2 linked regions of the Homo sapiens genome follow. The protein of the gene in region 1 interacts with the protein of each later gene in a pairwise test. Each region holds a gene or a part of one and is shown in the gene's direction. Other genes may lie near its edges.

Region 1 (7,260 bases):
GGCAGCTGTCCCTCTCCTGCAAGAGGAGGAGGAACTGGCAGAGGAGCTGGGGAAGAGCTGGCCACTGACCTCATGTTAGTGGGAGGGAAGGCATCGGTGATTTTGGCAGGTGCAGGCTCACAGGGTGGTGGGGGTGACAGCCTGCCTGGAGTGGGTTCAAGAAAGAAAGGCAAGGGGGAAATTGACCTTGCCCAGTGAAAACTCTTTCAGAAGGCTTTGCTGCAAAGGGAACACAGAAATGGGGCAGTGTTGAAGAAGGGGAAGTGAGTCAAGAAAGAAGGAACAGTAGTGCTGATGGAAATGATGCCAGAGAGATGAGACATTGCTGATGCAGGAGAGAGTGGGAGGACGGCCGGAGCCACATCGCTGAGCAGGCAATCAGCAAATGAATGAATGTGTGTGAAGCGGTGATAAGAGAAGCAGAGCAAATGGTGGTGCCTATTAGGGACTTAGGGGATCTGGGCAGGGAGGGCTTCTTTGGCAGGTGTCATTTTAGCAGAAACCTAGAGGTCCTGAAGGAGTAAGCCATGTGGATTCTGGGGAGAGAGCATTTCAGGAAGAAGAAACAGTCGGTGCAAAGGGCCTTAGGGCAGACTGGCTGGCGTACCGAAGGGAGAGTGTGGTTGGATCGGAGTGAGAAGGGATCATGGTGGCACTTGTGAGCAAACACCTGTGAAACATGCAGGACCTAGTGGGCCAGTAAGGACTTTGCCTTTTACTCAGCGAGACCCAGGACCCATCACAGGCGTGATGGACTCTGTTTTTTTTTTTTTGTTTTTTTTTTTTAGTTAAGGTCTTGCTCTGTTACCCAGGCTGGAGTGCAGTGGTGCAATCAGGGCTCATTCTGCCTCCTGGGCTCAAGTGGTCCTCCTACCTTAACTTCTCTAGTAGCTGAGATCACAGGCATACTCCACCACACCTGGCTAATTTTAGTATTATTTTTTGTAGAGAAGGGGTTTGCCATGTTGCTCAGGCTGGCCTCGAACTCCTGGCCTCAAGCCATCCGCCTGCCTCAGCCTCCTAAAGTGCTGGGATTACAGGTGTGAGCCACTGCGTCCAGCTGGGCTCTATTCTTCACAGAATCACACTGGTTGCTGAGTAGAGAATGGTATCAGGACAAAAGCAAAAACCGGGAGGTTGGGTGTGGTGGCTCACGCCCATAATCCCAGCACTTTGGGAGGCTGAGGCAGGTGGATGGCTTGAGGCCAGGAGTTCGAGGCCAGCCTGGGAAATATAGTGAGCTCCCATGTCAATAAAAAATAAATAAATAAGCAAAAGCCGGAGATTAAGCGTTACTGAAATGATCCAGAAGAGAGAGGGTGTTGGTTTGGAGAAGTGCTGGATTCTGCATGTATTTCAAAGGTGGAGCTGGTAGGGTTTGCTAAGGCATTAGGGGCAGAATGTGAGTCAAACGAAAGAGTCAAGGATCATGCCAGGGCGTTGACCTGAGCAACAGGAATCTCAGACATGCCCCTGACTGGGATGAGGCAGGCCAGTAGTCTGACCTTCAGCATGTCAAGTTGAAATGCTTATTTATCCAAGTGGGGATGTCAGATGGGCCACTGGATATTTAAGTATGGGAGAGGTCAGGCTGAGATACGTAAACCTGGGGACGGGTGGAAAACAGCAGGTGCTGGCCTGGCGCAGTGGCTCATGCCTGTAATCCCAATGCTTTGGGAGGCCGAGGCAGGCCAGGAGTTCAAGACCAGCCTGGACAACATGGCAAAACCCCATCTCTACCAAAAAATATAAAAATTAGCCGGGCATAGTGGCGCGTACCTGTAGTCCCAGCTACTCGGGTGGCTGAGGTGGGAGGATCACTTGAGCCTGGGAGGTTGAGGCTGCAGTGAGCTGTAATGGCACTACTGCACTCCAGCCGGGGTGACAGAGTGAGACTCTGTCTCAGAAAGCAAGCAGCAGGTGGCTTTTAAGGCCATCAGACTGGATGAGCTCACTTAGGGAGGGAGTGTGGTAAAGGAAAGAGGTCTGTATGCACCTCATGAGAATATCAACCTGAGAAACCCAGACCTGCCCTCTGCCAAGGAAGAAAGTGGCCCAGAGTTCTGGACTGTCCAGGAAATCACCTGGGGTTGAGGTCTGGAAGGGGCTCCGTTTCTGAAAGTGAAGCTGCCTACATGTGCCTTCCACTGGGCCCCAGGTGTGGGAGAAGGATGGCAGCCCCCTAGAAAGAAAAGAGTTTGCATATTTTGGGTGGCAAAAGAGCTTCACCCGGAGCAGCACTATTTAGGATATTTACATTGGATGTGCTCATTGTGAGGTGCCACTGGGATGGAGTCTGAGAGCAGAAGAGGAGCCACAGGGCCACAGTCTGAGAAAAATCCTGCCTCTATGGCATCTTCCAGGATAGTCTGCTTCCCTGGGGCCACATCATTGATTAATTAATAACAGCAACACGGCCCGGTGCAGTGGCTCACACCTGTAATCCCAGCACTTTGGGAGGCCAAGGTGGGTGGATCACTTGAGGTCAGGAGTTCAAGACCAGCCTGGCCAACATGGTGAAACCCTCTCTCTACTAAAAATACAAAAAATTAGCCGGGCATGGTGGCACATGCCTGTAATCCTAGTTACCCGGGAGGCTGAGGTGGGAGAATCGCTTGAACCCAGGAGGCAGAGGTTGCAGTGAGCCGAGATCACATCACTGCACTCCAGCCTGGGCAACAGAGCAAGACTCCATCACAAAAAGAAAAAAAAAAGATAATAAGAATAACAGCAATGCTAACATAGCAGTTCCCATGAGCCATGAGGATGTTCTGTTTGTATCTGCATAGTGATTTAATCCTTACCACTACCCTGGGAGTAGATCCGATTATAACCATCCCCTCCCCATTGCCTATGAGAAAACAGGCACCGAGAGGGTACGGGACAAGTGGAGGAGCTGGGATTTGCACCCAAGCGCTTCCTCTATGCTCTTAGCCATGATGCTCTGCTGCCTCAAAAGAACGGCCAGCTAGTGTTAGTAATAATAACATTTACCGATGTCATCGTTTGGGGTTTCATGTAGTCCTTGCAACAAACCTATGAGCTGGGCCCGTGATTCCAGTTTTGCAGAGTGGGGAGTTGGTCACAGAGCTAGTGAGACCAGGCCTCCAGCCCAGTTGGTCCGTCTCCAGGGCCTCAGCTCAGCACCACATCCCTGTACTGCAAGCCTCAGTGGTCAGCACCAGGCGTCCCATGGGGACTTAAGATTCCAAGGCTTTTGAGCACTGCTAGAAGTTTGGGGTAAGATCTTTTACTTTTTTTATATTAAAAAAATATATTTTTTTGAGATGGAGTCTCACTCTTTCGCCCAGGCTGGAGTACACTGGTGTGGCCTCGGCTCACTGCAACCTCCACCTCCCGGGTTCAAGAGAACCCGGAGAGGGAGAGCCTCAGCCTCCCGAGTAGCTGGGATTACAGGTGCCCACCACCATGCCCGGCTAATTTTTGTATTTTTAGTAGAGATAGAGTTTCAATCCAGGTGGGAGATGGGGTTTCACCATGTTGGCCAGGCTGGTCTCCAACTCCTGACCTCAGGCAATCCGCCCACCTCGGCCTCCCAAAGTGCTGGAATTACAGCCACTGCCCGGCCTGGGGTAAGCTTTCAATGTTGTAACTCCCTCCAGAACCTCATGGCCTATGAAGATGGCCAGGTGGGCCTGGGCCCAGGCTCTGAATGGCCTGCTGCCTCTCTCCTGGACACAGCATTCAACTTCCTGGCTGGGGCTGGGAGTGCAAAGATTTGTTTATTTGTTTCTTTTTTATTGAGACAGAGTCTCACTCTGTCGCCCTGGCTGGAGTGCAGTGGTGCAATCTGGGGTCGATGCAGCCTCTGCCTCCCGGGTTCAAGTGATTCTCGTGCCTCAGCCTGAGTAGCTGGGATTACAGGCATGCGCCACCAGGCCTGGCTAATCTTTTTTGCATTTTTGGTAGAGATGGGGTTTTGCCATTTTGGCCAGGCTGGTCTTGAACTCTTGACCTCCAGTGATCCACCTGCCTCAGCCCCCCAAAGTGCTGGGATTACAGGTGTGAGCCACCACTCCCAGCCTGGGAGTGCAAGGATTTAAATAAAATCTTGTGAAAGTTCAGTTTGGCTCCTTCAGGGACTCGGCCAGGCCGGGGGGCAGCACAGGAGACAGGCTGACTCCCCTGTACAGATGGATGGGGAAACACAGGCAGAGTAGGGACAGGGGACTTACACCAGGTCACACGGGGAGCCTGTGGATGAGGCAGAGGCAGGACTTGGGCCTGGGTCTCTGCGCTAAATGACTCCTGGGCATCCTGCTGAACTCTCTCCCAGAAGGAGATTGGCCTCACATACCCCACTGACCCCTTCCTAGCATGCTTTTTGCCAGACCCATTGAGACTGGCTGAGGACTGGTTGCCATAGAGATGGCCTGTTAGGCAGTTCTACGGTGCGGATGGGGGATGGGGCAGGATGGGGCAGGACACCGATATGCTAAATACCTACCAACAGTTGGTTAGGACCCCGTCGGTGCGACCAGGGCAGGACGTGCGGCTCCAGGCTCCAGGAACCAGAACGGGGCTGCTCAAGCTGCTGTCGACCGTCTCTCAGGACAAGCAGGTGAGGGAGGCCCAGTGAGGACACTTCCAGCTGCCTAGAGCCAGGTGGGTCAGGGAGGCCTGGGCTGGGGAGGCCCTTGAGAAGCCACAAGACCTGAGCTGAGGTCCAGATGAAACTCAGGGAGGCAGGAGTGGGACAGGGACCACAGGGAGGCCTAAGGGCCTTGGGAGAAGCCGAGGGATGACGCCCAGGAGTGACTCCCAGGGATGATGGGGCCATTCAGGGAACACTGCGGAAGGAGCAGGTTTCAGGAAAGATGAAGACCACCTTGATGAAGACCACCTTGGTTTCTGCCTTGGCTGTAGCAGGTCCAGGGCCCAGTGGGACATTTGGGAGTGCAGTCCAGGGCCCAGAGGTGGCCTAGCGCAATGGTGACAAATCTGGGCTCCACCACTTCCCAGCTGTGTGACCTCAGTTACTCAGCCTCTCTGAGCCTCAGCTTTCTCCTCCACATGATGGAGGTGATAGTGAGTACCGGCCTCCTAGGGTCCTTGGGAAGGTTACGTGTGTTTATGCATGAAAGTCCTGAGCACACAATAGGTGCTCAGCAGGTGGCAGCTGTTGCTATTTTAATATGCAGAACGGAGGTGGTGCTCGGTCGGGTTTTTTTGTTTGTTTGTTTTTTTGAGATGGAGTTTCACTCTTGTTGCCCAGGCTGGAGTGCAATGACACAATCTCGGCTCACTGCAGCCTCCAACTCCTAGGTTCAAGCGATTGTCCTGCCTCAGCCTCCCAAGTAGCTAGGATTACAGGCGCAGGCCACCACACTCGGCTAATTTTTTTTGTATTTTTAGTACAGATGGGGTTTCGCCATGTTGGCCAGGCTGGTCTCGAACTCCTGGCCTCAGGTGATCCGCCCCCCTTGGCCTCCCAAAGTGCTGGGGTTACAGGTGTGAGCACCACATCCAGCCCTGTTTGGTTGGTTTTTATGGTAACGAGGGCCCAGAGGGACCCAGCCAGGCCCAGCCAGGTGCACAGAGGGAGCACCCGGGTGAGGTGCAACACAGTCCAGGAGGCTGCTCAAGCTGGCTGCTCCTCCCCTACTGTCTCTGCCCAGGGCTGCCTGGGGAGTGGTGATGGTGTGCCAAATCAAGACCTGCAGCAGAGGTCTCAGAGCTCAAGGCAGACAGCAAAGAAGGACCGCAAGCCCAGGGGCCAGAGCAAGAAAGGACAGGGCTCTGAAGAGTCTGAAGAGTAAGCAGCAGTGGGATGGGTCAGGAGGCTGTTGGGGGTCAGGGCCCTCTGGGGGCTGGCGCCGACCCTGACCCCCACCCTTTCCTTCTTCAGTCACTTCCCGCTTCTTCCTCGGAAACCCTCCTTCCCCTTCCAGTGGGCCTGGGAGAGCATCGCCACAGATGTCCGGGCTGTGCTTCAGCCAAGCTCCCCAACCCCTGGCCACCAAGCCCTGCCCATGCCCTCCTCGTTCTCCCAGCGTCAGTCCAGGCGCAAGTCCACGGCCAACCTCCCAGAGGCCCATGGCTGCTGCTGGAAGACAGAGGCGCAAAACCTGAAGGCGAGACAGCAGCTGGGAGCCTGGGGCGGTGTCTCCATCCCTACTGGCAAAGGGGAGCTAGGATCAGAGCCCCCCAGTGGTCTCCAGCTGCCTGGGAGGAGGCCAGGATCAGGATCGGCGTCCGACAAGCAGGTCCAGCTGCAAAGCCTGGGTGCTGAGGAGGCCGAGAGGGGTCTGAGTTCTGGGGTGCTGCCCCAGCGCCCCAGGAGGGGGTCGATCTCAGAGGAGGAGCAATTTTCAGAGGCCACAGAGGAGGCTGAGGAGGGAGAGCACAGGACTCCCTGCAGAAGGAGGGCTGGTTGTCAGAGAAAGGGGCAGATTTCTGGAGAGGAAGCCTCCGATGAGGGAGAAGTGCAGGGCCAGAGCCAGGGGAGCAGCCCCAGCTTCAACAACCTCCGAAGGCGACAATGGAGGAAGACAAGGGCCAAGGAGCTGCAGGGGCCATGGGACCTGGAGAAGCTGCACAGGCAGCTACAGAGAGACCTGGACTGTGGTGAGCGTGGGGCTCAGAGCCTGGATTCCCCCGAAGCTACACCGCAGGGAACAGGGAGCAGTCAGGGAGGCAGGGGCTCAGGCAGGCTGGGCTGTGCTCTGGGTGCTGGGGGGCGTTGCCTGGTGGGCTGAGAGGGAGAGGGCAGCCCCTGACTTGGTCCCACTGTGGGCAGGCCCCCAAAAGCTGCCCTGGAAGACTTTGAGGGCTGCCTTCCAGGCCTCCAAGCGGAATGGAAAGGCCTATGCCTCGGGATACGATGAAACTTTCGTGTCTGCCAACCTCCCTAATCGCACCTTCCACAAACGACAGGAAGCCACCAGGTAAGAGGGAAGAGAAGGGAGTGGGAGCCCAGAATGAGAAGTAGAGATGGAGCCACTTCTCCAAGAGATGCTTAGGCATTTGAACTCTCATTCATTTCTTTATTTATCCATTCACCAAACTTTTGGATCATCCATCCATCCATCCATCCATCCATCCATCCATCCATCCACCCATCCATCCATCTATCCAACTACTGATAACATCCACTCAACCATTCATCCATCTCTCTCAATACCTGGCCAATTATCTATTGATACAACCACTTTTATTTCCCATCTTTTGTTCCATCCATCCATTAAATTATTAACTAAGTGATTAATGCAACGTTTATTATCTACTCATGGGCCCTTA
Region 2 (6,990 bases), on another chromosome or scaffold:
CTTCCTCCCACTTCGGAGCTGCTGCGGAGGCCAAGGGCATTTTGGGGATGTAGCTGAAGGGGGATTGAGTTGGGGATGCCTTGGTTTGGGTTTAGTGGGGTGTGTTTATGTAGGTCTGAGCCAGTCTGTGTGGGTCGAGTTGTTGCTCCCTGAACAGGCTAATGGCTCCCAGGAGTGCCCTCCTTGCCATGGCACTGGCAATGTGTGCTATGGTGCCTGGCACCAGGAGTCTATGGGCAGAGGAAGAGACATAAGGGTTGAAAATGTCATTCTTCCAATAGGAGAGGTCTGGATTTGCAGACCCTCAGAGTCACAAGGCAACTGGGGGTGTCGCATAGCCCAGGACTGCTCAGCAGGAGTCACCTGGGGCATTTAGTAAAATGCTGATTCCTAGACCCTGCTACTCTGAGGCTTCAATTCAGTGGGATGTGGAGGAGCCTGGGCATCTGCATTTCTCCTATGCCTCTCCAGGTGATGGGCGCCAGCACTGAGGTTTAGGAGGTGTTAGTCGAGTCATGTTCTGGTTTGCAATTGTTCAGTTGCTTTTCATCATGAAAATTAATAAAATCCCAGTAAGAAGCCTGGAAGAAATAGAATTCTTCCAAGTGTTAGCATTCATTTATGAAAGAATGATAGACCTTTCTCCAAATTTGAAAACAATCTCAAAAAACTACCTGAGATTACCAATAATGAGTTATGAGGCTGACAAAGTTTTCCAACCAACATTAAAATTTGTTCCCATCATTATAGGAGTACTCTGAATTATCTATTTTCTCCACAGGAAAAATATTATAAAATCATTGGCTTCCAAAGAGGTAATCAAAAATGACGAAGAAGCAAAAAATGTAAAAAAAAGAAGATATTATAAAGGTGGATATCAGGTATCCAATTAATACAATTTTATATTAGTTTTATAATGTTTTCGCAACGTTTTTGATATTTGTCAACTTAAAATATTTTAAAATTTGTTGTGATTTGTTATTATTCTAAATAAGTTTTCATTTTTGTACCAAGTCTTGTACTGGGGTTTTTAAATTCTTCTTCCTAAGGGGGACTGTAGCGGCTCCAGGTTTTACAAAACCTGGATCTACTAACCAATAGTTGCCTGTTCAAAAGTCATTCTTCTTCTTTTCCTCACTAATGGAACCCTGACTTTGTTTCAGGCAGCAATGTACCTTCAATTAAAAAAAAACATCCTTGGCCGGGCGTGGTGGCTCACACCTGTAATTCCAGCATTTTGGGAGGCCAAGGTGGGTGGATCACCTGAGGTCTGCAGTTTGAGACCAGCTTGGCCAACATGGCAAAACTCCATCTCTACTAAAAATACAAAAATTAGCTGGGTGTGGTGGTGTGGGCCTGTAATCCCAGCTACTTGAGAGGCTGAGGCAGGAGAATCACTTGAACCCGGGAGGCGGAGGTTGCAATGAGCCAAGATCACGCCATTGCACTCCAAACTGGACAACAGAGCAAGACACCATCTTAAAAAATAATAACAATACTCCCAGCCTCCTCTGAAGCCAGGGCTGGCCATGAGACACCGTCCCAGCCAATGAGATAAAACAGAGCTCTCTGGGGAGAGTTTTCAGGAAAGCGGTGAAGTGGAGCTGACCTAGTGTGGGTATGCCTTTTGTTCTTCCCCTTCTTGACTGGAATAGTGATGAGATGTCTGGGAAGAGGCAGCCAACTTGCCACGTAGAAGACATTTTGAAAAAGAAAATTACATCCTGAGGGTGAAGGAGTGAGAGAGGATAAAGTGAGGAACAGCTTGCCTTTGCATTTCTTGTTAAGAGAGAATAAAAATCTGTTTAAGCCGCTGTCTAGTTGTGATCCCGATTACTCACAGCCAGACATAACCCTTAATCTACACACATGTATCGAAGTACCACCAGCTGGGCTTTTTAAACAACAGAAATGCACTGTCTCACTTCTGTAAGCTAGAAGTCTGAAATCAGGTGTCAGCTGGTCCACGCTCCCTATGAAGCCCTGGGGAAGGATCTGTCCCAGGCCGCTCTCATGGCTTCCGGGGGTTTGCTCCCATCTTTGGCATTTCCTTGGCTAGCTGATGCCTCGACCTGATCTCTACCTTCATGTTCACACGGCATGCTCCCGTTGCTTGTGTCTCTGTATCCAATTTCCCCCTTTTATAAGGATAGAAGGCAGACTGGATTAGGAATCCAACCTACTCCATTGTGACCTCATCTTAGCTAATTACATCTACAACGACCCTATTTCCAAGTAAGGTCATATTCTGAGGTCCTGGGAGTGAGCACTTCAACATACGAGTTTTTTTTTTTGAGGGGGTGGGTGGGGGGAACACAATTCATCCCAGGATACCTGGGCATTGTCCCTGATTGTCCCTCCCTCCCTCCTGTCCACGTCCAAGCCGTGAGCATGTCCTGCCAATTCTGCACCCAGATTGCTCTGATGCGCTGATACTTCACTGTATCAGCGTGGAGGAGGCCCCCACACTGCCTCCTTGTCCCCACTCTTGACTACTTCAGCCCATGCCCCAAGGGCAGCCAGGGCATCTGCTAAAGATAGTCTCACATCTGCTCACAGATATCCTAGTTCCTCCTGACCCCCTGAACCTTAGAGGTCTGCACTTCCTCCTCTTCTGAAGTTAGGCATGGCCATGTGACCTGCTCTGGCCAATGAAACGTGAGCAGAAGTGACGAGAGTCCCTTCGGGGAGGAAGCCTTCAAAGCCAGCATAATTGTCACCTTTCATTCACATTGCTGCACCATGTGGGTGCTCGGCTGGCAGACAGCCCCAGCAGCTTGGGCTCCCAACCACTCTGATGAACAGAGCCCCATTGACCGAGGCAGGATGTATGATGTGGGCAAGACACACCAGGGAGATTTGGGTTTGGTTGTTACTGTGGCTAACATAGCTTATCCTGACTGATGCACTTTAAAAAATATCAATCTGACAATGGTCCATGGGACCACCTTCCAGGTGAGACAGTCTCCAAACTCTCGCCAGCCTGCAAGACCTTGCAAGTGCTGCCCCTCTGTGCCCCCGCCCCCCATCTTCCACACACTCCCTCTCACCATTCTGTGGCCCAGATACTTTTATCAGATTCTCAAATATGTCCCGTTCACAGCAGTCAGGGTGTTCCCCCATGCTGCTCCCTTTGGTGGGTGCTCTTCCCTGCCTTCTCCTTGCTAGAAAGTAAGCTCTGGTGGGCAGCCGCTTCCTCTCTGCTGTTCACTGTGGTGTCCCCACATCTTAGTGACTACCTGGCACACAGCAAGTGCTCAATAAATATTTGTCTAATGACACTGAATGAATGTTTGCCCAGCTGAGTCCTGCCCCTCCCAAGTCTCAGCTCGACAGCACATCTTTCATTTGGCTATGACCTGCTGATGTGGCTTTGCTGGGGGCAGCCTGGGCTGGTGGGGGGAGGCTCCCTAGGCTGGCATCCGCCCAGCTCTGCCGCTTGCTGGCTCTGCCGCCGTTAGCGTGCGCTTTAACCTCTGACCTTCAGACCTCTCATGCGTACAGAGGGGGACATGGATCTCCGGGGTCGCTGCGTCTTCCTGACCACTGACGGCCAGGACGGCCCCAGCCCCGCTTTACCTGCAAGCCCCACTCCAGGCTCGAGCCCCCGAGGGCAGGGATAGCTTCCCGGGTCCCGAGGCTTGACCAGAGCCTGAAAGCTCCTGCCGGGGGTTGCTCCGACTCAGCGAGGCGCCAGGCTGCCCGGCGCGGCTGGGGGCGCTCAGCGCCGGGACCCCAGCCCTGCCCCGGCCGCCCGCTGGCCCAGTGCGCACGCTCCGGCAGCTCAGCTCCCCCTCCCACGGCGGCAGGAGAGCTCCCGGCATCTGCCCGGGGCGGGGGCGGGGGCGGGGCGGGGCGGGCGCCGCGCCCTCCTGCCTGACTGGCAGGAAGACAGACCAATCGGAGGGGCTCCCCGGGGGGAGGGGCGGTGCCGTGCCTGAGCCGGGCGCGGGCGACCGAGGGAGCTGCAGCCACCCGCGTGCGGCACGCGCCGGCCGCCTGCCCGGATCGCGGCCACCAGTGCCGCGGCCTCTCGACTCCCGCCCCGCCGAGCCGCGCGCGCGACTGCCATCCTCCTCAATTGCTTTTTACGATTTTTTTTGTGCATGCATTCATTTTCTGTTCCGTTTTGTCCTTTTTAAGGCGGTGGCGGCGGCGACAGCGGCGTAAGCTCGCAGCGGGGAGGGGGCGGCCGGAGGATGCGGCGCGGGGCTGCGCTCGCTACGTCCGCTGCTGCTGCCCGGCTCGGGCCTGAGCGCCGAGCAGGTGGGTACAGGTGCGCCGGGGGGCGGGAGGCGAGCGCTGGCCAGAGGGAACCCGTGGACCCGGCGACCGAGGGGCGGACCTGGCGGCAAGGGACGCGGCGACCGGTGCCGCCCCGCCCCATCGTCCATCTCCCCCTCCTCCGGCCATCGCGCCCCCTCTGGGTCCCCCTTCCACTCTCGCATCCCACCTCAGTGGTCCCCCACCCTTCCATACCCATCCCCCACTCCTCTTCAGACCCCCTTGCAAAATCTCCCAGCCGCTGCGTCGCTTCCCCCAACACCCCCTCCCGGTCCCGCCCCCAGCCCCCAGCTCTCCTTCACGCCACCCCTATTTCCACTCTTCTCCGGATTCCGCCCTCAAGCCAAGGAGCGGGAGGGGGACCCACCCGGTGCCTGCCGGAGTGGCGCGGGGGGTGTGGCCGGCCCGTCCCCTCCGTGTCTTCCGCAGGGTAGGTCACAGTCCCCCAGATCTCCGCCCAGGTGGCAAAGAAGATGGAGCTGGGGGCCGCGCCCCGGCGGCGCGGGGCCCGAAGGCGAGGCCGCCCAGCCCGCACCCCACCCCACGCACGGCACACGCCGCCGCGGCCCCTGCCACGCACACCCTCGCGCTGCTCCGCCCACGTGGGCGCCGGGGAGGAGGCTCGAGAGATGGGAAGAAAGGCTGGCACCCACCCTCCTGCCGGGCCGGCGCGCCCTGGGCGCACTGGCCTCCGGAGATGGCGCGCAAGGATTGACTCTCGTGGTGCCAGACACCTTGCCGGGCGCCCTGCGTCGGGGCCAGCGGCCTCGCTGGCCTGCGTCAGTGCGCTGCGGCCTCGCCTCCCAGCCCCTCGGTCCTTCGCTCCATCCCCCCTGCTGTGGGCTCCTGAGCATCCGGCCTGGGCAGCCCAGATAGAGGCCGCTTACGAGGCTGGCGCTTCTTTTCGCCTTAGAAGCATCCCGCTCCCACACACCCCAGCTCGCCGGTCTCCTGAAGGCTGGGCCAGCCTCGGCTCTCCGCCAGCCTCTGCCCGGCTCTCTGAGCTCCAGCGATACTGTATCTAACCGCCAGCCCTCCTCCGCCGCCCGCCCCATCTGCGCACACTCGCAGGCACACTGTCCTTGGCCTTTGCCAGTGCTGTGCTCTCTCCGCGAACGCCCTAACTTCAGCTGGCCAGCTCCTTGTAGTCAGGGAGATCCCCTTGCCCCTCCTGAGCTTTCCTGGAACGTGGCGCTGTCCCAGGATGCTGTTACCATCTGATGGCCTCTGCCTTCCAGAGCAGAGGAGGAGGTGGGGAGGAGGGCAGGGGCAGCCTCAGCCCCTCTCCCAGGGCTCCACCCACAGTGAATGTTGGGCATAGCAGGGCCATCCCCCCTAAGTCAGAGTAACCCGCTGGTGTGGAGGGCGAGGCCATGGGAGGAGCTGGCCCTTCCTGTAGCACCCTGGGCTGGTGGGTGGTGGCTCCACTAGCTGGGATGGGCAAGGAGGAGGGACACATTCGGGGATAGAGTGGGGGAATTAGAATCCTTTCCTAGCAGGGCATTTCCACCCTCCTGGAGACCTGCAGCTCTGCAGAGACTGATGTTGTAGCGCACAGTGGAGGCTTGTGGCTTGTTGCAAGATTTTTGTTGCTGTTGAGGTGTGTACCGGTCTGTAATGCTGAACATCTCTGCTCTGGAGTCTGGGGTAATTCTTATCTGTAGTCTTTTTGCAGTAAGCAGCTCCCAAAGGCTCACAGTGTGGACCCAATGCATGAGATGACTGGCATTTTCCTCCTTCACAAACCACCCATGACTCCCACCGCCCCCACGACCTCACCAGTTCCTCACATCCTGGCTTCCCCAGCCCATCTCTCCCCTCTCCCTGCCACAATGTCTCAGCCACGCCTGCTGCCTCTGTGTTGCGTAGACATGTCTTCACACTTGGGTTTTTCCCCCACATGCTTCTTTTTCCCCCCGTCTAAAACAATGCTCCCCTCCCTTGAGTATGTGGAGAACGATTCATGATTAAGCCCAGCTCTCAGGTTCCATCAGTGTGATTTTCCCAGACTCTGCCGGAAAGATTGTGTGCTTCTCTCATTTGTGTTCTCAGAACTTTTTATACACATACAGTGTGATATTTGTTTGTGTAGTTTTTCCTTAAGCAGATCTTGCCCACTAGAGACTGGGGACACGGGACACAGTGAGGTGGCCTGAGAGATGGTCCCACTTTGGTGGGGGCTCTGTTTTCCTGGGGAGGTGACCACACAGACACTGCCCGTGCTGTCAGAGAGTCATGTGCAGGGAGAGATGGGGACAGGCGGCCCGGCCAGGAAGGCTGCACGAGGAAGTGGCAGGACCGTGGCCCCACTCTCTTGGTGTGTAAGGGTGGATTGGGCTGTGGGACAAGTGGCAGAGGGAACAATTTCTAATGCTTAAGCCAGCAGCAATTGCCACTGCAGGCTATGGCTATCTGTTTAACTCCTCGAGGGTGGGACCTTGTGTCTCTTCAGGCTCTGAGCCAGACTGCCAGGGTTCCCATTCAGGCCCTGCCTCACTTAGCTGTGACTGGGCAAGTGCCTCCCTGCTGGGCTTTCTAACTAAATGGGGGCTTCCCTTGGGGAGTCTGAGGATGACTGCAGTGTGTCCCAGTTCTGCTGGGTCACTCCTCTCCCCATAGTGGCGACGGGATCAACCTGCAGGGCTTCTGAAGTTGGACTTGCCTGTAGTTTATCCCTTGTCATTGTGTGATCTTGGGTAAGAAGAT

The links. The genes of interacting proteins can lie anywhere in the genome.
Region 2: the proteins of TSGA10IP (region 1) and JAKMIP1 interact in binary tests that used the Homo sapiens proteins (3 or more experiments, as listed by UniProt).

What each region holds. Positions count from the first base shown.
Region 1 is NC_000011.10:65,941,241-65,948,500, forward strand, and holds the start of TSGA10IP (testis-specific protein 10-interacting protein), read left to right. Parts: upstream 1-4,239; 5' UTR 4,240-4,435; coding exon 4,436-4,582; exon of another isoform or gene 4,583-4,626; intron 4,627-5,639; coding exon 5,640-5,776; intron 5,777-5,869; coding exon 5,870-6,588; intron 6,589-6,760; coding exon 6,761-6,908; intron 6,909-7,260.
Region 2 is NC_000004.12:6,197,529-6,204,518, reverse strand, and holds the start of JAKMIP1 (janus kinase and microtubule-interacting protein 1), read left to right. Parts: upstream 1-3,969; 5' UTR 3,970-4,266; intron 4,267-6,990. UniProt on the Homo sapiens protein: Associates with microtubules and may play a role in the microtubule-dependent transport of the GABA-B receptor. May play a role in JAK1 signaling and regulate microtubule cytoskeleton rearrangements.